3 linked regions of the Homo sapiens genome follow. The protein of the gene in region 3 purifies or fractionates together with the protein of the main gene of each other region. This does not show direct contact. Each region holds a gene or a part of one and is shown on either strand. Other genes may lie near its edges.

Evidence for each region.
Region 1: the proteins of CLEC4A (region 3) and ROR2 purify together in Homo sapiens (co-immunoprecipitation; 2 studies listed by BioGRID and IntAct, with this or other methods). This does not show direct contact.
Region 2: the proteins of CLEC4A (region 3) and PTK7 purify together in Homo sapiens (co-immunoprecipitation; 2 studies listed by BioGRID and IntAct, with this or other methods). This does not show direct contact.

The regions. Positions count from the first base shown.
Region 1 is NC_000009.12:91,722,984-91,731,100, reverse strand, and holds part of ROR2 (tyrosine-protein kinase transmembrane receptor ROR2 isoform 1 precursor), read left to right. Parts: coding exon 1-191; intron 192-4,357; coding exon 4,358-4,560; exon of another isoform or gene 4,561-4,654; intron 4,655-5,993; coding exon 5,994-7,439; 3' UTR 7,440-8,117. UniProt on the Homo sapiens protein: Tyrosine-protein kinase receptor which may be involved in the early formation of the chondrocytes. It seems to be required for cartilage and growth plate development. Phosphorylates YWHAB, leading to induction of osteogenesis and bone formation.
Region 2 is NC_000006.12:43,155,442-43,162,460, reverse strand, and holds the end of PTK7 (inactive tyrosine-protein kinase 7 isoform a precursor), read right to left. Parts: intron 3,645-7,019; coding exon 3,493-3,644; intron 2,674-3,492; coding exon 2,495-2,673; intron 1,741-2,494; coding exon 1,580-1,740; 3' UTR 746-1,579; downstream 1-745. UniProt on the Homo sapiens protein: Inactive tyrosine kinase involved in Wnt signaling pathway. Component of both the non-canonical (also known as the Wnt/planar cell polarity signaling) and the canonical Wnt signaling pathway.
Region 3 is NC_000012.12:8,119,183-8,127,378, forward strand, and holds the start of CLEC4A (C-type lectin domain family 4 member A), read left to right. Parts: upstream 1-4,434; 5' UTR 4,435-4,696; coding exon 4,697-4,778; intron 4,779-6,378; coding exon 6,379-6,495; intron 6,496-7,294; exon of another isoform or gene 7,295-8,196. UniProt on the Homo sapiens protein: C-type lectin receptor that binds carbohydrates mannose and fucose but also weakly interacts with N-acetylglucosamine (GlcNAc) in a Ca(2+)-dependent manner. Involved in regulating immune reactivity.

The DNA of each region.
Region 1 (8,117 bases), on a different chromosome or scaffold from region 3:
CAAGTCAGGCCACCAGTGCCAGCCGTGGGCCCTGCAGCACCCCCACAGCCACCACCTGTCCAGCACAGACTTCCCTGAGCTTGGAGGGGGGCACGCCTACTGCCGGAACCCCGGAGGCCAGATGGAGGGCCCCTGGTGCTTTACGCAGAATAAAAACGTACGCATGGAACTGTGTGACGTACCCTCGTGTAGTATGTATTCTCTCTCTCTTTTTTTAATGTGTTGATTGTTGAGTGAACCTTGTGATGAGGGCGTTCTGTCCTGACCTGGGTTGGGGTGTGCCTCTGTACGGTGGCGACCAGAGACCCCTGATCTTACCACAGTGACCATTTTAAATAAAGCTGTTGGGCCACGCGTAGTGGCTGATGCCTATAATCCCAGCACTTTGGGAGGCCGAGGTGGGCAGATCACTTGAGGTCAGGAGTTCAAGACCAGCCTGGTCAACATGGTGAAACCCCATAAAAATACAAAAATTAGCCAGGTGCGGTGGCACATGCCTGTAATCCCAGCTACTCAAGAGACTGAGGCAGGAGAATCACTTGAGCCTGGGAAGCGGAGGTTGCAGTGAGCCAAGATTGTGACACTGCACTCCAGCATGGACAGCAGAGTGAGACCCTGTCTCAAAAATAAATAAATAAATAACGCAAGTTATTGGTTGTTATGAAAGTAACATCTGACCATTACAAGACATTTTAAAATATAGAAAAGTCTGAAGAGTAATGTCAGATCACCCCTAATGTTACCACCCAGTAGTGACTTGTTTGCGTTTTGGCCCACCCCCTTCCATCAGCCCTTTTCCCATGTATGGATGGTCCTGGGATATTCACTTTGACATTTTGTTTCTCCATTAACATTATCTCCCAGTGCGGTGGCTCACAACCTGTAATCCCAGTACTTTGGGAGGCCAAGACGGGTGGATCTCTTGAACCCAGGAGCTTGAAACCAGTCTGAGCAACATGGCAAAAACCCGTCTCTACAAAAAATACAAAAATTGTCCAGGCGTGGTGGCACACCTACTTGGGTGGTGGAGGTGGGAGGATTGCTTGAGCCCAGTAGTTCAAGGCTGCAGTGAGCCATCATGGTGCCACTACGCTCCAGTCTAGGCAACAAAACAAGACCTTTTCTCAAAAACAAAAAACAAAAAACACCATTATTGCTCAGTAGTTCCTAATATTCGTAAAAATATTTCCCTTCCACCCACCAGCTTTTGAGCTTTTCACTGCTTCTCAGATTTTACACTTAGGTTTGGTGGAGTGAGGCGAAAATAGAATTCATTGCTTGTCCTCATTCCTTGCAAGTGTGTCTGTAATGTCATGAATATGGAAGCTCACGTGGCTGATGGTTGACAGCTTCGACAGTTCTCACCTCTGTCTTAGTCATGCCCGGTTCACCAGTCCAGGCAGCAGGGTAACCAAGGCTGGGCTGGGAGCTGGAAGCAGCAATTGGTGAATGAGTGGGCACCCGCGGATAAAGAGAGAGCAGCCGGTGAAGCGAGGCTGGGCTCACCATGCACCTGGAGATCTCCTCCTGGGGTGCAGGCCCGCGTGTCTCTACTCCGAAGTGCAGGAAATAAACACTGGCACTAATGACCTTCCTGATGTGTGATTCAGCAGCTCCAGATTTGGCATTGCCTCTGGCTCAGCAGATCAGACACAAATCTTCAAGAATGTGTTCATTATGGGAGAACAAATTTTAAGAATGAAATTATCAGTCATTCAAATTGCGGTCTAGGCACTCTGGAGCACTCCAGACCTTAAAGCTGTCCTGCAATGAAGGATGGCCCTGTGCCCTGTAAGGAACAAAAGCAGGTTGTAGGACAGAACTGTGTTAGAGGTGCTTTTTTGCTTATTGTTTTGTTTCTGGCAAAAGGAAAATGAGTGGGAGTTTGTGTGTGAGCACACACAGGCTCCTGACTTTTACGAGGTTTTGGAAAGATGGATATCAAACTTTTAGCAGTGATTTCCCCAGACCTACAAAAGTGTTCAAATACAAGACTTTTTTTTTTTTTTTTACAGTGAGTAGGAATTACTTTTGTAATTAAAAATAAATCAAAGCATGAAAAAAATGTATGATTTTGGACCAGTCAATTCTTAGAATCTTGTATCGCAGGTTTGTACTTACAGGGCATAAATGGAAGGATATTTATTGCAGAATCACTTGTGAGAGCTAAACATAAAACAGACTGTTTATCAGTAGGGCTGGATGGGGCAGTTGGAGACGCCTGTGCTGTGGAGTGGCATGCAGCTGTGGGAGAACACACATATCTATCTGCTCCAACATGAGCTGCTGTCCAAGAGATTTTATTCTGCCAAAAAAACAGGAGCAGGAAAATATGGATGACACGATTCTATTTAAAATCAAGTTCATTTAGGCCGGGTGTGGTGGCTCACGCCTGTAATCCCAGCACTTTGGGAGGCCAAGGCAGGCGGATCACCTGAGGTCAGGAGTTCAAGACCAGGCTGGCCAACAGTGCAAAACCCTGTCTCTACTAAACATATAAAAATTAGCCAGGCATGGTGGCGGGCGCCTGTAATCCCAGCTAGTCGGGAGGCTAAGGCAGGAGAATCACTTGAACCCAGGGGGCAGAGGTTGCAGTGAACTGAGATCCCACCACTGCCCTCCAGCCTAGGAGATAGAGCGAGACTCCATCTCAAAAATAAATAAATAAACAAACACTCTGTCTCAAAAATAAATAAAATAAAGTTCATTCAACATTCGAATTAAGAAAACCATATAAAACTACTGTGTCTATATGTCAGAATAGTTGAATATCGGTTGTTCCATGTGGTTCAACCTAAAATATACATAAAGTTAGGAGAACACGAAACTTAACCATTTATAGCCTTTGGGAAAGAGGACTGTTAGAAATACTATCTTTTGAAAGGCCACATTTCTGTAATACTACAGTTTTTCCCAGTAAGCATGAGTCATGTTGGTAATGTTAAGTAGATAATAAAAGCAGGTGATGGTGTCAGTGTGAGCTCACACCTCTGGTCTTGGCGTGAGAGTGGCCTGGACTCTCCTGCTAACCTTAATAATGAAAAATGAACCAAACCCTAGTAAAAAAGAATGAATCGGCATCCCCAGTGCCCCGAAGATTTCTGGAACACCTGCCTCAGAACCCTTTCAGAGGGGAAGCTGCTAGGTGGGGCCAGAAGAAAGTTTTGTTTGTGGTTTTACTTGATTTCTTCTTATTTGGGGGAGCAGGGGTGGGGCAAGGCTGGGTTTTGGGACAAGGTGCTTTTTTCCTAAGGTGGCAGTAGCATGTTCACTTTTAGAACCGAGTTAGCTCTTTTAGGCCTCACACTGACCAGAAATCACTTGTTTGCTTCCAGATGAGAAGCGCTTTGCCCCCTGGCCATGGGGCCCTCTAAGTCTGATATAGTTATTTGCAAGGTTAAGGAGAAAACAGAACACCGTGGTTTTCTGGGGATGTGGGAAAGTGGCTCTCTAGAGAACTCACCTTCCACCAGGCTTAGGGTCAGCGTCCTGAAACGGCACCACTTTGTCTTACATTCAATTGCTTTGACGTGTGGGGTGCTTGGGGCCACGCAGCCTGGGAGGAGCCAGCCCTGCCTGGAGTCCTGCTCAGAATCTGAGGTCACCTCAGCCTGCCTGGTGTGCCCCCTGTACCTTTCTGTAAATCCTGTAGAGGGAGACAAAGAGTTACTTTTCCCTGTGATTTAAAAAAAAAAAAAATGCAGGGAAGGTAGCTGGTGGCCTTGAATCTTGGTACCCAGTGCTTTCCAAGAATTCTTGTGCCCCTGTTGCATATTGTATTGGGTCAAGAGCATGGACTACTGGTGCTCTTTTAAATCTAGTGCATGTTTAATTATTACCCTAAAAGAATCTGTCATCATTAGATAAAAATGTGAAGAAAACATTAAAATGTTGAATGAGGAAAAGGATCGTGTCTAATCCCAGTACCAAGTTTCACTCACCTTGGACAAGGGTCTCCAGTGAATTTCATGAACTTGTCAGTAGCTGGGGAGACCTTGATAAAAGTGAAATTGGGCAGAGCACCTATCTCCGATGGTATTCAAACATCAGGAACAGAAAGCGGATGTGGTCGTTATTAAGATCATTAGAATTCATTTACTTTTTATACTGCATATTCCCGCTTGTTTCCAGGTTGGGCAGTTTTGGGTTTTGTTTCCCCAGGATGCAGCCGGGTGTGCATTTTTTGGTGCATCATGTTTTTTAAGGTGTGGTGTGCCCTTTTACCCCATTGTGTAACTTAGGTGATGACACACGTGCACGTGAAGATTTTGGCTGGAGGTGGAGAGTGGGTTGGTAGAGAACTTAGAGTAGAAAAGGGATGTTTTCTGAAAAATCACGAAAGCCTTATTGTTCACAGGTCCCCGAGACAGCAGCAAGATGGGGATTCTGTACATCTTGGTCCCCAGCATCGCAATTCCACTGGTCATCGCTTGCCTTTTCTTCTTGGTTTGCATGTGCCGGAATAAGCAGAAGGCATCTGCGTCCACACCGCAGCGGCGACAGCTGATGGCCTCGCCCAGCCAAGACATGGAAATGCCCCTCATTAACCAGCACAAACAGGTCTCCATGCCTTACATTTTCTACCCGGGTGGCTCTTCCAGGTTTAATCCTCAGGGGTTGTTTCCCCCAACATTAAATGTCTTAATTTACTTGATACATAGCACATAATTATTTTAAACTCCGCTTCATTTTGCCATTTTTTTTTTCTGTAAACTAGATCAGGACATGTGTGCTTTAGAAAATAAATGGCAGGCGTGTTGGGAATTCACTGCCCCAGAGTCCATGGGCCTCCTTCTGCCTGGACCATGCTGCCCCTGTGGGCCCCAGCGAGTGTCCTCACTGTCCAGGTGCCTCAGCTCTGCCCAGAAGACACACAAGAACAACAGGGCTCCAATGCTCCCCATAATTTTTCTTGACACTTTTGGGTTGGGTTGGTTTTGCTTTGTTTTGTTTACAGGGAAGGATAGGAGAATAGCTCTTAAATGGGAGTAGGTGGACAGGCTACCACTAAAAGGCCACCCCTCATCCCAGAGCAGCCTTAGATGGGGGTGGGGCACTGAAATACAACAGATGAGAACATGTGCTGCAGCCTCTCCAGGTTGTGTTGTAAAAGGGCATTTACACTCATTGCAAGCCGTAGGTAACATCATTCTCAGCCAGCTTTGCAGGGGCTCTTCAAGGTGGCCAGGAGGGAGCTGATGCACTTGGCTCTTCAGTCCCAGAGTCGGTGAGAGTTTGCTATGGGCAGGGGCTGGCCAGCGAGGAGGGCACAGAGCCCCGGGGCTTGCACGGAGGCCCAGGAACCTCTGGGGAGGATGAGGGCTGGCCACACGGGAGGAGCTGGTGTCATAGAGGCCGAGAGAGATGCAGGGTTCTCAGGGCTCCTATCACCTGTGGGGTACTCTTTCCAGGAACATGTTTAACAGAGACCCTAGTCAAGAGGCCCATGGACAGGCCCATTGAGGGAACCTCTGTAGAACAACTGGCTTGGACTCTTATAAGTGACAAAATTGCCAAGACAAAAATGTCGTGGGAAAGCCTCTGTGGGGTCCATGAGAAAAAGACATCACATCTCACGTGATGTGTCGGCACACATGGGGGTTGGAGGGAACCTGGCAGGGTATGTCCGGGGCAGCCCCAGGGCAGCTGGTGCCTGGGCCTGGCTGTAGGGTGTGTGTGTGTGTCCACACATGCACAAGTGGGAAGGAAGTCAGTGTGTCCCAGCTGGATTTTGGAGGGACCTTATTTGTAGCCTGGTTGGGATCTGTGGAAGATTGCAGATGGGAAGCAACCTTGGCATCAGAGCCGTATTTAAGGTTAACTAGAGAGCTGTGGGTGGGCAGGCCAAGGCTGGGTGGGCAAAACCAGCGGGTCTTCTGCAAGGCCCCCCTAGTCGTGGCCGCACAGGGACTCCACTCCTCCCGGCTGCTCTGCAGCTTCCTCCAGGGCTGCGGTGACAGTGATGTTTCACGTGGGGCTTTTCTTCTTGACAGGCCAAACTCAAAGAGATCAGCCTGTCTGCGGTGAGGTTCATGGAGGAGCTGGGAGAGGACCGGTTTGGGAAAGTCTACAAAGGTCACCTGTTCGGCCCTGCCCCGGGGGAGCAGACCCAGGCTGTGGCCATCAAAACGCTGAAGGACAAAGCGGAGGGGCCCCTGCGGGAGGAGTTCCGGCATGAGGCTATGCTGCGAGCACGGCTGCAACACCCCAACGTCGTCTGCCTGCTGGGCGTGGTGACCAAGGACCAGCCCCTGAGCATGATCTTCAGCTACTGTTCGCACGGCGACCTCCACGAATTCCTGGTCATGCGCTCGCCGCACTCGGACGTGGGCAGCACCGATGATGACCGCACGGTGAAGTCCGCCCTGGAGCCCCCCGACTTCGTGCACCTTGTGGCACAGATCGCGGCGGGGATGGAGTACCTATCCAGCCACCACGTGGTTCACAAGGACCTGGCCACCCGCAATGTGCTAGTGTACGACAAGCTGAACGTGAAGATCTCAGACTTGGGCCTCTTCCGAGAGGTGTATGCCGCCGATTACTACAAGCTGCTGGGGAACTCGCTGCTGCCTATCCGCTGGATGGCCCCAGAGGCCATCATGTACGGCAAGTTCTCCATCGACTCAGACATCTGGTCCTACGGTGTGGTCCTGTGGGAGGTCTTCAGCTACGGCCTGCAGCCCTACTGCGGGTACTCCAACCAGGATGTGGTGGAGATGATCCGGAACCGGCAGGTGCTGCCTTGCCCCGATGACTGTCCCGCCTGGGTGTATGCCCTCATGATCGAGTGCTGGAACGAGTTCCCCAGCCGGCGGCCCCGCTTCAAGGACATCCACAGCCGGCTCCGAGCCTGGGGCAACCTTTCCAACTACAACAGCTCGGCGCAGACCTCGGGGGCCAGCAACACCACGCAGACCAGCTCCCTGAGCACCAGCCCAGTGAGCAATGTGAGCAACGCCCGCTACGTGGGGCCCAAGCAGAAGGCCCCGCCCTTCCCACAGCCCCAGTTCATCCCCATGAAGGGCCAGATCAGACCCATGGTGCCCCCGCCGCAGCTCTACGTCCCCGTCAACGGCTACCAGCCGGTGCCGGCCTATGGGGCCTACCTGCCCAACTTCTACCCGGTGCAGATCCCAATGCAGATGGCCCCGCAGCAGGTGCCTCCTCAGATGGTCCCCAAGCCCAGCTCACACCACAGTGGCAGTGGCTCCACCAGCACAGGCTACGTCACCACGGCCCCCTCCAACACATCCATGGCAGACAGGGCAGCCCTGCTCTCAGAGGGCGCTGATGACACACAGAACGCCCCAGAAGATGGGGCCCAGAGCACCGTGCAGGAAGCAGAGGAGGAGGAGGAAGGCTCTGTCCCAGAGACTGAGCTGCTGGGGGACTGTGACACTCTGCAGGTGGACGAGGCCCAAGTCCAGCTGGAAGCTTGAGTGGCACCAGGGCCCGGGGTTCGGGGATAGAAGCCCCGCCGAGACCCCACAGGGACCTCAGTCACCTTTGAGAAGACACCATACTCAGCAATCACAAGAGCCCGCCGGCCAGTGGGCTTGTTTGCAGACTGGGTGAGGTGGAGCCCTGCTCCTCTCTGTCCTCTGACACAGAGAGCTGCCCTGCCTAGGAGCACCCAAGCCAGGCAGGGGGTCTGGCAGCACGGCGTCCTGGGGAGCAGGACACATGGTCATCCCCAGGGCTGTATACATTGATTCTGGTGGTAGACTGGTAGTGAGCAGCAAATGCCTTTCAAGAAAATAGGTGGCAGCTTCACTCCATGTCATATATGGAGTGAATATTTCAAAACGTTGGGAATAAGGGCCTGCAAAAGGCAGCGAGGAGGCACCTCGGGTCTTGAGGTTCCTGACAACCGATCTGGTCTGTTGGTTTGAGGATGAAGGGGCTCCATTTCTGCTGCCTCCCTGCTGAGAATATTCTCCCTTTAGCAGCCAAAGATTCGCTGGAACGGAGGCTGCCCTCTGCTGCCTGTTGGGGTCGGAAGACAAGGGGCTTCTGAAATGGGAGTTCCTGAGATACAACAAAATGTGTGCCTTCAAAGAAACTGACAGCTTTGTATTTGGTGAAATGGTTTTAATTATACTCCATGTGTATTTTGC
Region 2 (7,019 bases), on a different chromosome or scaffold from region 3:
GGTGAGGACACAAGATCCAGGCATTAAGCACCGTCTCTCTGCTTGGTTCTACCTACTTCACTTCCCTCCTAGGGTCTTGAAAGGACTCAGAGACCTGAGTCTGTCACTAACTCCTTCTCCAATCCTACTCTAACTTGCTCCCCTTCACGCTTCTACCCTCCCCATCTGAGCACAAGGATTAGGCCCGTCTAGGTGACAGTCAGAGGACAGCACAGGGTTGCACAGACAACAGGTGATCTTGCCTTCTTCATGCCTGCATGCTCACCTGCCCTGCAAACTGGAGAGAAGAACCAATATCCACCGGTTCATCCTGTCCAAGCCCCACCAGACTCCATGAAGGCACATGGCCCTTTCATTTTTCTCTTTTTTTTTTTGTTTTTTTTTAGACAGAGTCTCGCTGTCACCCAGGCTGGAGTGCAGTGGTGTGATCTCGGTTCACTGCAACCTACATCTCCTGGGTTCAAGCGATTCTCCTGCCTCAGCCTCCCAAGTAGCTGGGATTACAGGCGCCTGCCACCATGTCCAGCTAATTTTTATATTTTCAGTAGAGACAGGGGTTTCACCTTTTTGGCCAGGCTGGTCTCGAACTCCTGACCTCAGGTGATCCACTGGCCTCAGCCTCCCAAAGTGCTGGGATTACAGGCATGAGCCACTGCACCCGGCCTGCACACGGCCCCTTCTCATCAGCGGGGGAAAAAGGAACATCTTCCACGAGCAAGAGCAGGGAATGAATCTCAGAAACAGGTTGTAAAAAAGGCTTATTTATTGAGAGCAGCGAGTGTAAAAACAAAAACAAAAACAAAAAAACAAAACAAACAAAAAACGACAACAATAAAAGTGTGGGGTAAGGATGGCCCACCCTCCTCATCTCCAGGGCCCACCCCTACCTCCCATGCCCACCCACCCCACGCTGCAATTACATATAAAAGCCGCCCGTGGTGCATACAAAAAGGGCGGTTTATATAGTGTCAAAAGCTCCTGAAAACTCCTTCATCTGCCAGGCACTTAGGATGAGGAAAGGAGAGAAGGGTGGGGAAGACGTGGGTCTGGGTCAGTGTGCACAAGCCCAGAGTGGGGAGGACTCACTTGCTGTGTCCTCTATAATCCTGGTCTAGACCCCCAAGTGGGACCAGTGGGCCAAGAGACTCATTAACCCTGTGTGCCCAGAACTTGAGAATATTAAGGAACTCCCCACAAACCCAGCTCATCCCAAGCCTAGCCCTCCCCAGGCAAAGTTGGCAGATGAGTGGCAGAGTTGGACCCGGTCAAGGGGAGAAGTTGAAGGCCAGAAATTGGGGTTACCTGTGGCACCCACACTGTCCCTGATAGAGGAAGAGGTGGCAGGGAAAACTGCCCAGCTCAAAGCCCTAGTCGCCCAGTTTGGGTCCAAGTCAGCCTCCCAAAGGATGAGGGTGAGGAAGAGGAGGAAAGGCCAGGCCCTGCTCAGACCTCAGCAATGCCTGTTGCACTAGGGCAGGGGCCTCAGGGCCCAGGAGGACAGGGATCTTGCCCATCATGCTGTGAGCTTCCCTCTAGAGATGTCCTCCCCTGCCCAGGCCATCCTGAGCGGGCTCCCTCCTCACGGCTTGCTGTCCACGGTGCTGTCTCCCAGGGCGCTGGCAATCTCACTGAAGGAGGGCCGGTCCTTGGGGCTGAGGGCCCAGCAGCGCTGCATCAGCCGATAGAGTTTGGAAGGGCAGCCCTCGGGCTGAGGAAGTCTAGCCTTCCCAGCCTGCAAATCTGTAGGGAAGACAGCAGGTGCAGTGTTGGCCAAAACATTCAACAACTTGTTCAACACTTTGTGGACCTTGCAGTTTATACAAGCAGCCACCCAAGGATGCCTCTGGGGCAATGCTGGCCAGCGGCAGGTGGGTACCCGCAACGGAAAAAGATGACTCCCCTGGCCCCACTCACTCTGGCTGGTAGGACGGGGTCCATGCATAGGAGCTGAAGTGGGCTGGCGGACAGGCGTCAGAGTGGCTGGAGTGGGCACTGGGGGCAAAGGCTATTTACCAACCAATATAGAAGTATTGCAGTATTTTCGGCCAGGTGTGGTGGCTCACGCCTGCAATCCCAGCACTTTGGGAGGCCGAGGCGGGTGGATCACAAGGTCAGGAGTTTGAGACCAGCCTGACCAACATGGTGAAGCCCCCCCATCTCTACTAAAAATACAAAAATTAGCCAGGGAGTGGAGGTGCGTGCCTGTAATCCCAGCTACTAGGGAGTCTAAGGCAGGAGAATCGCTTGAACCCAGGAGGCAGAAGTTGCAGTGAACGGAGATCGGGCCACTGCACTCCAGTCTGGGCGACAGGGCGACACTCCGTCTCAAAAGAAAAACAAAGTATTGCAGTATTTTAACAACCAGAGTGGTTGTATCTGTGTGCCTGCTCAGTAGCAGCCCTGAGAGGGAGGTAGGCTGAACCAGCCCTGGGGCCCTGAGTAGGCCCCATCTGGGGCCCATCTGGAATCATCCCCTAGCAGCAAGGCTGCCTACCTGCCAGTACTTCATCATCTGCCTGCCCACCATGGGGCATCTCTCCATGTGTAAACACTTCCCACATCAGCACACCGAAGGCCCAGACATCAGACTTGGTAGAGAAGTCACCCTCCAGGATGGCCTCGGGGGACATCCAGCGCAGCGGCACCCAGGCCTGGCGGAAGTGGTAGTACTCACTGCAGGAGAGAAGCAACCCAGGGGTGAGGTGGGGTGGGAGCGTGGCCTGGCGCTGCACCCTCATCTCCCCATCTGGAACGCATCCCCAAGCCGGGGGCCCAGCCTTTCTACATACAGACATCAAGAAATTGGTCACATGCGTGCTGAGCATGGGAGTACACTAGACAAAATCTGGAGGTAACCACACGAGAGGTTTGATGGTTAAAAAATTTCCATTAAGAATCAAACTTTGCCTAAATGTTAACAGAAAAGTTAATAGTCATACATACTTTCTATATTGGTTGTAAAAATGTAAAAACTAAGAACTGTTAAATGGAAAGAGCTTTATTAGTGATAAACCAATCCTCACTACAGCTATAGTCAGACAAATGGGGGTGACCTGGAACCAGAGGGACTCAGGGTGATGTTCCCGGCAGCGCTGCAGAGCCCTCGTAGGCTGTCTAGAGCAAGCTCTGGCATGGGTGCTGAGGCATAAGTCTCAGACTTCAAAATAATAATGACTGAATTCAGGAAGTTACAGAGAGAGCCATATAAATAGATTATATATAAATCCTTATCAAATTTGCCTATTTTTTAAAAAAGGTTTATTTATTTATTTAATCGCTAGAGACATTTTACAACCACCAAGGGTGTGCACTGGGTGGGAAGCCTGCTGCACCCTTGGAAAAAGGATGAGAAAGCTCTTCCCTATCCCAGGCCCTCCAGCTTTGGACTAAGCAGGCACTAAACCCTTTCCCACACCCCCCAAACTATCTGTCCTCTGCCCCTCACCCTCTGGGAAAAAATGGGGAGCCCCCACCCCACGCATGCCCTTCTACCTGTTGTACACATCCTTGCTGAGGCCCAGGGCAGACACCTTCACTTGTCTCTGGGCACTGACCAGGCAGTTACGCGCAGCCAAGTCCTTATGCACAAAGCGGTTGTTGGACAGGTGCTCCATGCCCAGGGCTACCTGGGTGCATAGGGCCACCTGGAGAGATAAAGGGGCCTGTTAGAGCAGCCCAGGAATAGGCATCAAGATGACCACCCTCAACACAACCCTTGGTAGCGTTTCAACACTATTGGTGTGCTGCGTAGGAAGCCCAGAAGCACAACAGCCTCAGCTTCCTTCTCTGTAAAATGGGGATAATAACAGTACCTGCCTTCCTGGGTTGTTAGAAGACTGAACTAAGCAAACTAAAGTGCCTGACACCATGCTGACACACAGCAAGTGCCAGATTAAGTGAGTGGCACATGGGCCTAAGGGCACATACATAGTAACCACTTGTCCAGTGAAAAATAAGTGGGCAGAAATCATAGCTGATATTTTTTATTTTCAAGTGACAGGGTCTTGCTCTGTCACCCAGGCTAGAGTGCAGTGACATGATCACAGCTCACTGCAGCCTCTAAACTCCTGGGCTCAAGCAATCCTCCCACCTCAGCCTTCCAAGTAGCTAGGACTATAGCTGTGCATCACCATGCCCAGCTTACTTTTTTTTTTTTTCTTTTGAGACGGAGTCTTGCTCTGTTGCCCAGGCTGGAGTGCAGTGGCATGATCTCGGCTCACTTCAAGCTCTGCCTCCCGGGTTCACGCCATTCTCCTGACTCAGCCTCCCGAGTAGCTGGGATTACAGGTGCCTGCCACTACGCCCAGCTAATTTTTTTGTATTTTTAGTAGAGACGAGGTTTCACCATGTTAGCCAGGATGGTCTCGATCTCCTGACCTTGTGATCCGCCCGCCTCGGCCTTCCAAAGTGCTGGGATTACAGGCATGAGCCACTGCGCCCAGCCCCCAGCTTACTTTTTAATTAAAAAAAAAAATTCTTTACCAAGGCAGGTGGATCACCTGAGATTGGGAGTTCGAGACCAGCCTGATCAACGTGGATAAACCCAGCACTACTAAAAATACAAAAATTAGCTGGGTGTGGTGGCACATGCCTATAATCCCAGCTACTGGGGAGGCTGAGGCAGAAGAATCGCTTGAACCCAGCAGGCGGAGGTTGTGGTGAGCCGAGATTGCGCCATTGCACTCCAGCCTGGGCAATAAGAGCAAAACTCCATCTCAAAAAATATATATATATATTTCTTTGGTAGAGACGGTGTCTAGCTACGTTGCCCAGGCTGGTCTCAAATATCTAACCTCAAGCGATCCTCCTGCCTTAGCTTCCCAAAGCACTGGGATTTCAGGTGAGTGGCACCATGCCTGATCTTAGATGATATCTTTATGGGTTGTTTCTTTTTCATTTTACTTCAAAAGTCTATCTTTTCTACTAGTTGTGTTAAAAATATGTGTGTGTATGCTGGGCATGGTGACTCATGCCTGTAATCCCAGCACTTTGGGAGGCTGAGGCAGGAGGACTGCTTAACCTCAGGAGTTTGTGACCAGTCTGGGCAACATAGTGAGACTCTATTAAAAAAAAAAAAAAAAAAAGAAAAAAAAAAATATATATATATATATATATATATATATATATATATATAGCGTGTGTGTCTGTGTGTGTGCACGCACGTGTGTGTATGTGTTAAGGCATATAGACCCATATGACTGGCTGCCTCCAAGGAACGGAACTGGAGGCTAGAAGGTAGAAAGGTAAGAAAACTTCTGGCTTACATTTTTTTGTGGGAAAAAAAAAAAAAAACCACAATCCAACAATGCTAGCACTCAAGAGTTCCTTCCCAACCATATGTTCTCCCTCCCCTCAAGGAGTAACCACTACCCTGACTTTTGTGATAATTTCTTTCTTGTTCTTTGTAGTTTACCACTTACATGTTCCTAGATAATATAATTCCATTTTGCCTGTTTCAGAGCCAGATTAAAACTGGAAGCACACAAAATGTATACTCTTTTGTGCCTGGATTTTTTTTTTTTTTCACAACATTGTAAGATTCTTTTGTTTGTTTGCTTGTTTTGAGACCAAGTCTCGCTCTTGTCACCCACGCTGGAGGGCAGTGGTGCGATCTCGGCTCACTGCAAACTCCACCCCGCTGGGTTCAAGTGATTCTCCTGCCTCAGCCTCCCAAGTAGCTGGGATTACAGGCGCGCACTACCACGCCTAGCTAATTTTTGTATTTTCAGTAGAGATGGGGTTTCATCATGTTGGCCAGGATGGTCTCGATCTCGTCCTCATGATCCACCCTCCTCAGCCTCCCAAGTGCTGGGATTACAGACATGAGCCACTGTGCCCGGCCTTTATTTTTTGAGATAGGGTCTCACTCTGTCACCCAGGCTGGAGTACAGTGATGGTGATCACGGTTCACTGCAGCCTCGCCCTCCTGGACTCAAGTGATCCTCCCAACTCAGCCTCCTGTGTAGCTGGGACAAAAATGTGTACCATCAATCCCAGCCTTTTTTATTTTTGTATTTTTTTGTAGAGACGGGGGTCTCCTTATGTTGCTCAGGCTGGTCTCAAACTCCTGGGATCAAGCAATCCTTCCATCTCTGCCTCCCAAACTGCTGGGATCACAGGTGTGAGCCACTGGGCCAGCCAGGTTAATTTTTTTAAATCACTGGACATGGTCTGTTTTTCATTATAAACATCTCATATTTTAATTCTTTTTTTTTTTTTTTTTTTTTTTTTTGAGACAGGGTATTGCTCTGTCACCCAGGCTGGAGTACAGTGGCATGACCTCAGCTCACTGCAACCTCTGCCTCCCAAGTTCCAGTGACTCTCGTGCCTCAGCCTCCCAAGCAGCTGGGATTACAGGTGCCCACCATGACACCCAGCTAATTTTTGTATTTTTAGTAGAGATGGGGTTTCACCACATTGGTCAGGCTGGTCTTGAATTCCTGACCTCAAGTGATCAGCCTGCCTCAGCCTCCCAAAGTGCTGGGATTACAGGCGTGAGCCACCACGCCTGGCCTCATACTTTAATTCTAATGCCAATGGGTTGTTTCCAGTTTGGGGCTATTAAGAACAGCGTTATTATGAACACTTTTATAAGTGTACACATGTATGAGTTTCTCTAAGATACCTAAGACGAAGTCTAGAATATGAATATCTCTAGCTATACAAAATAATGCCCAACTCTTTTCCAAAGTGAAAGAGTTGGGGAGATTTTTCATTCATTAATACTCTTTTTAGAATTTTGAGCCAATGTGAATATATTATATTATACACTATATATGAAACGTAACTAAATTACATTAACTTTTTTTTTTTTTGATGGAGTCTTGTTCTGTTGCCAGGCTGGAGTGCAGTGGCCTGATCTCGGCTCACTGCAACCTCCACTCCGCCTCCCGGGTTCAAGCGATTCTCCTGCCTCAACCTCCCGAGTAGCTGGGTTTACAGGCACATACCACCACGCCCAGCTAACTTTTGTATTTTTTCTAGTAGAAACGAAGTTTCACCATGTTGGCCAGGCTGGT
Region 3 (8,196 bases):
CTTAGTCTCATCTTTGGTGAAAATAAGATAGATTTTTTATTTGTTTGCTTTTGTTTTCTGAGACAGAGCTTCGCTACTGTTGCCCAGGCTGGAGTGCAATGGTGCGATCTCAGTTCACTGCAACTTCTGCCTCCCAGGTTCAAGTGGTTCTCCTGCCTCAGCCTCCCTAGTGTCTGGGCTTATAGGCATGCACCACCACGCCTGGCTAATTTTGTATTTTTAGTAGTGATGGGGTTTCACCATGTTGGTCAGGCTGGTCTCGATCCCCTGACCTTAGGTGATCCACCCGCCTTGGCCTCCCAAAGTGCTGGGATTACAGGCATGAGCTACCATGCCTAGCCTGTGTCTTTTTATTATGAAAGAAATACATGCTTATAAAATATCAAACAGTAAAAAATCTTTAAAAATAAAAGTGCCCTATTTACTCCATCCTTACTTCTAAATACTGAGATTAATTTCACAGTGAACAGAATGGTCACTTGCCATCATATCAATATAAATAGTCTAACGAATATCTTGTTTTCATGAAATTAACAATACTGAGCTATTAAATTGACTTCTGATATCAACTACCTGGACTTAGGCCAAATTTCACAGGTTGAGGGCACGCCCTTCATAAGACTGCCATTACTTCAGATACCAGCCACAAGTTCAGGGGTTCCCAGGGGTGTCCTCACTCCTGATCAACTGACTACAAATTTGGGGTTTCCCATGATCCCTTCAGGTTTTATGATTTATTAGAATGACTCACTGAACTCAGGATAGTGCCATGCTTATGATTGCAGTTTTATTATAGCAAAAGGATACAAATCAGAACCAGCCAGAGGGAGAGATGCATGGGGTAAGGACTGAGAGGGTCCTAAATGGAAATTTCCATTGACCCCATTGATATATCACTTTCTTAGAACTTTAATGTGTGATAATACACAGAGTATTGCCAATCAGGGGAGCTTCAGTGCCCAGAGTTTTTACTGGGGTCCATTATGTAGGCATGATTGATTGAACCATTGGTCACAAGTTGAACTCAGTCTCTAGCTTCCCTTCCCCACCTGGGCTGATATAACATGGCTCAGGGCTTCAATGCGCCAATCACATGACTGGTCTTTCCGGCATGGCCAGCCCCACCCTGAATCACCTTCTTAGCATAAACTATCTTAGAGCCCATCATGAGAGACCTCATTAGCATGAGATATACGGGCCCACCATGAATAACAAAGACAATCCTATTATTTGGAAAATTCCAAGGATTTAAAGGCTACCTCCAGGAAGTGGGAACAAAATCCAGGCAAATTCTTTATTACCTAGGTTAACTGCAACATGATGCAATATTCAGAGAGTGAACGAACAAGTGAAGGCACACTGTCAGCCTCTCAGAGTTGTGGAACTTCCAGTCTTCCCTCATAATAGGTACCATACCACACATGACATGCAATCAATACTAGTAAAGCTTATCTTCCTTAAAACTTTAAATAAATGTAAATAGATGTTTTAGTGTTTTTTTCTCTGTGCCTTAGCAGATCCTCTTTTATACTGCCTAAGGTACTTGTGCCCCATTTTGGAGATCACTGCCCAAGAGATCTCTTGGATAAATAATTTAAAGGGATAAGGGGATAGATTCTATTATTGTTTCCAAATGTCTGTGTTCTCCTTTGTGAAAGGATTAAACTTTGATACCCTTGACATGTCTTTCTGTAGACAAAGTATATTTCCCTGTCTCACTTGCAGGTTTGTTCAGGTAACTTGCATTGGCCAACAGAATCAGAGCAAATACAACGTACACCTTATCTGAATAAAGGATGCTACTACATGGTTCAGCTTACAAGGAGCTATTCTGTGATCTCAGCTTCCAGAATGAGAAAACACTTGGAGAGGGGCCAAGCAGAGTTGCAGTCAACTCCAAGGTGGCCCTAAGCACAAGTGTAATGTAAGTGAGAAATACATGTTTGTTGTTGTAAGCCACTTGGATTTTGGGGTTGTTGGTGATACGGTGTAATCCAGTTATAATGTGACTTATTCCAGGGAGAGAGCTATAGTTTTAGGAATATGGTTTGCTTTCTAATTATGAGCTTAGATTGTAAAGACTCTGAGAATCAATGATTGTTATTTCAGGGAATATGTGTGCATGTATACCTGTCTACGTGCATGTGCTGGTTAGGCCCAATCATTAATTTGTGGAGAACTTAAAATTCCCTTATCCTTCCCTTATGCTTTGTCATTCCCCTTTCCCTTTTCTTACTAAATAATTTGATTCTAAATAAAGCAGTAGCAAGATAGGTGTCTATGGTGAGGTGGCTGGGAGAGCAGCAGTGGCCTGGCACAGGGGGAGAGCTTTAGCAGGGTGAGAAGGGTGACTATGCAGGGTATTGGCTTGACAGTGGTTCTGGAGCCCAAGCAGAGTGAGAAGAACATCCCTTAGGGGTGGGAAAGTGTCCTGGCATGGGGAACCAGAGCGAGGAGATGTCCACTCCTGGCAATGGCCCAGTGCAGGGTGTCAGAGGATAAGATTGAGGAGGGTGTCCATAGTAGGGGTAGCCTGATGTGAGAGGTCAGAGTCTGAGAGGTAAAGAAGGCATCTATGTGGTGGGATAGTCAGGTGCAGTGAGTTGGAGTGCAAGCAGGGTGAGGAGGGCATCCATGTATGAGGTTACCTTCTATAGGGAGTCAGAGTCGCAAATGGCTGAGCAGAGTACTCTAGGGCCAGCCTGGTATGTATGTCAGCATGTGGGAGAGGTGAGGAGGGCACCCATGCCTAGTGTTGGCCCAGTTGGGGTTGGGACTCAGCACTTAAGCAGGATGAGGAGAGAGAGCATCCTTGCAGAGGGTAGACCTGGTGTGGTTTCAGAGACCAAGCATGATAAGGAGGGTGTCCATGTGGTGGGGTAGCCCAGTGAGGGAACTCAGATCCTAAGTAGGGTAAGATGGACATTATTGCTGGGGGATGGAGGACCTGCATGGAGTGTCAGAGCCCAAGCAGGATGAAGAAAGCTTCTATGCAGAGGGAGGACTTGGTGTGGGTTTCAGAAACTTAGCAGGATAAGGAGGTGGTCCATGTGGTAGGATAGCCCGGTGAGGAAATCAGACCCCTCCAGGGTGAGGAGGGCTTCCACCCATAGGGTGACCTTGTGTGGAGCATTAGAACCTAAGGGGGTCTAAGTGGTGACTAGGGGACCAGCATCAGGAATCAGAGTGCAAGCAGAGTGAGGAGGGCTTTCCTGCAGAGGAATGGCCTAGCACAGGGAGTCAGAGCCTTGGCAGGGTGAGGGGGATGTTTGTTGGGGGATGTTCATGGGGGTGGGGAGTGGGCTGGCCCTTTGCCGGCACTCTCAGAGTGAGGAGGGAGGGCATCCGCGCAGGGGATGGTGGCTTGGACTGGGGAGTCAGAGCCCAACTAGGAAGAGAGGGACATCTTAGCAGGTGGGAGATTGACGACATCCAGGAGATTGATCAAATAAGGAATAAGTGAAAGACAATGAAAGCAGGTTTCTTAGTGTCACAGAAAGGAGTTAGGAATGTGGGAAGGGAGAAAACTAGAATGAAACTTGTGGTGTTAGATTGGAATTAGAGGAATTAGTGTGAACTCATGGTGTTCAATATATTTAGATATAGAAATAATATAGAAATATAGACGTGTGTGTTTGTGTGTGTGTGCATGCATGTATGCATGTGTGTTATGCAGGAGAAGGAATCAGCTGGGGGAGATTAAAAGGAGGATCATTTGCGGAGAGTTGAGGGCAGAGAATCCAGGTGTGAGCTGGGAGCATGTCTATGGAGAGATTCCACATGAAGGATTTAATATTTGGAGTGTTTTCTTCTAGGCCTTTGGAAAAAGTCATATTTAGTACTTTGTTTAAGTTTATCCCCTTCTATACTGTGATTCTATATAATTCTCCTAACTGTTAAAAAATAGTCATATATATTGGAGGTGATGTGGCGATTAAAAGGTTAGGGAAGCATGGAATAAAGGCTGGCCTTCCCTCTCCTCCAACATCCAGTAAAGGGAGCTGCTTTCTGGAGATTCTAGCAAGATGAATGCAGACTTTTGATAGAGTTAGTTACCAACAAGGAAACACAGAGAGCATGGAGGAACAGCTTCAGAAGACATGGGGTTTAAACTTTGCCATCCCCACCATGCTACAGGAAACTAATTCGTGAAGGTGGGGAGGCTGATATGTGAGTTTTGTGTCAATGATACTCTTAGAATGTGGTACTAACAAGTTGCCTGATCAGTCAAAATTGATGAGATGAATGCAACATAAGTCTATGTTCAGGATGTTTGGTCAAAAGTAATTACATTTGTGTGTGGAAGCACAGAAATTGTATTTTTTACTGGTGAAAAACGCAGTTCTCCAGAAAGACTCTAAGTGCTTGGTTCTTCTTTTATTTTTCTTCCTCTTTCCGCAACCCTTTGAGTTCCCACTTTTATTGCATTTGCTTGCATTTGTTTCAAGGCTGTGATTCTCACTATACTGGTCCTGAGGAAAGGGCTTCTGTGAACTGCGGTTTTTAGTTTTTATTGTGGTTCTTAGTTCTCATGAGACCCCTCTTGAGGATATGTGCCTATCTGGTGCCTCTGCTCTCCACTAGTTGAGTGAAAGGAAGGAGGTAATTTACCACCATGTTTGGTTCCTGTTTATAAGATGTTTTAAGAAAGATCTGAAACAGATTTTCTGAAGAAAGCAGAAGCTCTCTTCCCATTATGACTTCGGAAATCACTTATGCTGAAGTGAGGTTCAAAAATGAATTCAAGTCCTCAGGCATCAACACAGCCTCTTCTGCAGGTAAAGATCATTTTCTAGGGGTCAGAGTGAATGACGAGGTGAAGGATGAGGAGAGGGTTTATGAATAAGGCATAGGTGTTTTCAGTTGCTGGTTGTCTGATTGAGTATGTCTGGGAAACACAAGAGTCCCAGAAGATTGAGTGGCCTGCAGATACGCATTACGGGGTGTACATTTGTATTGTGGAGAAGAAAAGATTTTGTGCCACTCTCTTCAGCCTCCACTCTGCTTACTGAAACAGAGGTGAGAGAAATCCACTCCAGTTCTGAGCTAAGGCGAGTGCTCTGATGCCCCTGTGTTTTCTGAGGCTGAGTGGGGCTGGGGTTAAGAGATTGAGTACAGCTTCTGAAACCATCAATCCAGATGCAGGGGGTCCTGATGAATTTGTGAGATTTGTTTTTTGATCAGTTAGAGGGAAAGAGTTTGGGTGGACAGTGGTGAGGGTATATTTGTTGGTAATGGATGGAAATGTAACAAAAGGCCTTTGCAAATGAAAGACTAGAAAGTCTACAAAGAAAGTCTCTTAAATCTCCAGGAAACTTTTTCTGAAATCAGAGAACCTATTGCGTGTTGCATCTCTGAGACAGACTCTGTTACGTTTGGGAGTAGATGCAAGGTGATTTGGGTGTCATGTGTGATATCTCAAGTATAGAGCAAAAGAGAGAAAAGAATGTATATAGAGTACAAGAAACTATGGGGGAAGGGGTCAGGACTATAGTTACGCTTTCTAAAATACCTCTGTGAAGGTGTGGAGAGCACTTAGGGAAATTTTTTCTCCTTAAAAACTTTATATAATTTCTTTATTACACAAGTATTAATGTTCATTGTAGAAAAAATTAACCAGAGGTACACAGATATTTGAATTATAATTACTCTTATCATCTAGAGAAAATCATAATTTGCAATTTAGTGAATATCCTTCCACATACAAATACATATAATGTGCATATGTATTTTACTAAAAATGTAATCATATTATATAATACTGAATTTTTTTCCCCCATCATTTGACAAAATATCATAACTCGAAGAAAGTGATTCCTAACCATGAGATGGTAACTAAAAAGACTGACTTTATTCTAAACATGTGATGAGGAATGATTATAAAGATTTATTTGCTATAGCATTATTTAAAGTTGGAAACCATTATTTAAATATATGATGAAATACTATGCAACCATAATAAGGAGTGTTAAAGAAGAAAATATAATGGTATGAAAAATGTTCATGATATAGTGTAAAGGAAAATAATAGGTCAGAAATCAGTATTTATGGTATGTCAATCGTGGGAAAATTTGCATATGTGTATATATACATTCAAAAAATTGCTAGAAAGATATATACCAAAATATTATGGTATATTATAAGTTATATGGCATAACAGTTATCCTCAATTGTAGGAATTCGTACTTTTATGTATTTTTTAAAGTTTCTACAGTGAATATTATTATATCCTTTCTATTCCTATTCTCATGTGATTTCAAATGTCATACCGTTAGTAACTGTGTGTCATCCAAGAAAAGAGAGAGAAAGAGGAGGAGGAAGAAGAGGAAGTAAAGACCAAACTTATTACTGATAAAACTAATTTGGCTTCTTCTTCAGCTTCCAAGGAGAGGACTGCCCCTCACAAAAGTAATACCGGATTCCCCAAGCTGCTTTGTGCCTCACTGTTGATATTTTTCCTGCTATTGGCAATCTCATTCTTTATTGCTTTTGTCAGTAAGTATGCCAACTGAACCAATAAGCAATATCTGCTGTCCATGAACAGAGGGTATCCTTTAAAAACTGACTTTTGAAAATGAGCTTATCCAGAAATCTGAAATGAAATTTTCTCTGGGGAGACATAATTCATGGGAATCCACTGTGAATTTTGCTCTTTATTTGGATTTAGTTACTGTCCTGTAAAAATAATGGAATCCCTTCTCATTTAGAGAAACTGAAGCATAAATGTGGGTGTATGTATTTGTGTTGTAGAGTGAAATCTATGGGGCATCATCTCTATACTAGACACTATGTAAGTGAGGACAAATCTATGTTTCCTTGGTAGCATTTATCAGGCCAGTCTGATTTGAATGCACAGACATTTATGTTTTGGGATGAGCAGGTAGACAACAAGGAGATGGGAAGAAATATTTCAGGAAGAGTTCTCCACTGGCTTTTACTCTGATTATTCCTGCCCTGCTCAAGACTGTGTGGGATCTAAAAGTCAATTTTGCAAATTAGGTGGATTGCTGCGTATCTTTGGCTTTCAGCATTTGTTGAGTTTTATTCCCCCTGGTTCTGTCACCCAGGCTGGAGTGCATTGGTGCAATCTTGGCTCACTGCAACCTCCACCTCCCAGGTTCAAGCGATTCTCCCACCCCAGCCTCCCAAGTAGCTGGGATTACAGGTGTGCATCACTATGCTCAGCTAATTTTTTTTTTTTTTTTTTTTGTATTTTTAGTAGAGACAGGGTTTTCTCATGTTTCCTGGCCTTGTCCTGAACTCCTGGGCTCAAGCAGTCTGCCTACCTCAGCCTCCTAACGTGCTGGGATTACAGGCATGAGTCACTACGCCTGGCTCAAAATTTTTAAAAGGCATAAAAAGCAGTATACATTTAGGTAGATTCTTTATTAATTTCTTTGGTCATTTCATAAGTATTGTCCATCTACTGTATGTCAGGCACTGTGCCAGACAGAGAGTCAAGACAGAGCCACAGCCCCTGGTCTCAAGAAATTTAGAGAATGATAAAATGAACCAGTGGTTATAACATTGTATGGTAAGTGTTGTACAGTTAAGAAGTATAATAAGTGCAAGAGGCTGAGGTAGGCTTTCCGGAGGAGGTGACATCTAGAGCTGTGTGTACCAAGAATGACCTAGAGATATGAGAGAGCATGGAATTTGGGGAAACGTAAGTATGCATGACTGGAACATATGGTGCTAAGTAAAGAACTAAGAAATGAAGTTGTAGGTGGCAGAAAGAAACAGGACTCAGATCATGAAGACTGCTGTATATCATGATAAAGAGTTTGGATTTTTTCCCTCCTAAAGGTTATTTTATCAATTATCTTTTGCTGGTTAATAAGCCAATCTAAAACTTAGTGGATTAAAACAGCAACTATTTATTTAGCTCATAAATCTGTGTCTTGGCAATTGAGACTGGTGTCAGTTGGGAGATTTCCCCAGTCCTGGCTGAACTCACTCATGTATATGTGGTTGGGTACTGGCCACAGGCAACTTAGCTTCTGAGGAACAGGATGTTAGATGGAATGGCAGGAGAGATTTGGCCACGTTTCTCTTATCATTCATCAGGGTAGCCTGGGTTTGTTCACATGGCAACTGGCAGGCTTTTAAGACTGAGAGCGGAAGTAAGCAAGGCCTTTTGAAATCTCACCTTGGAACTAGCGCAGAGTTGCTCCTGCACATTCTATTGGCCAAAAG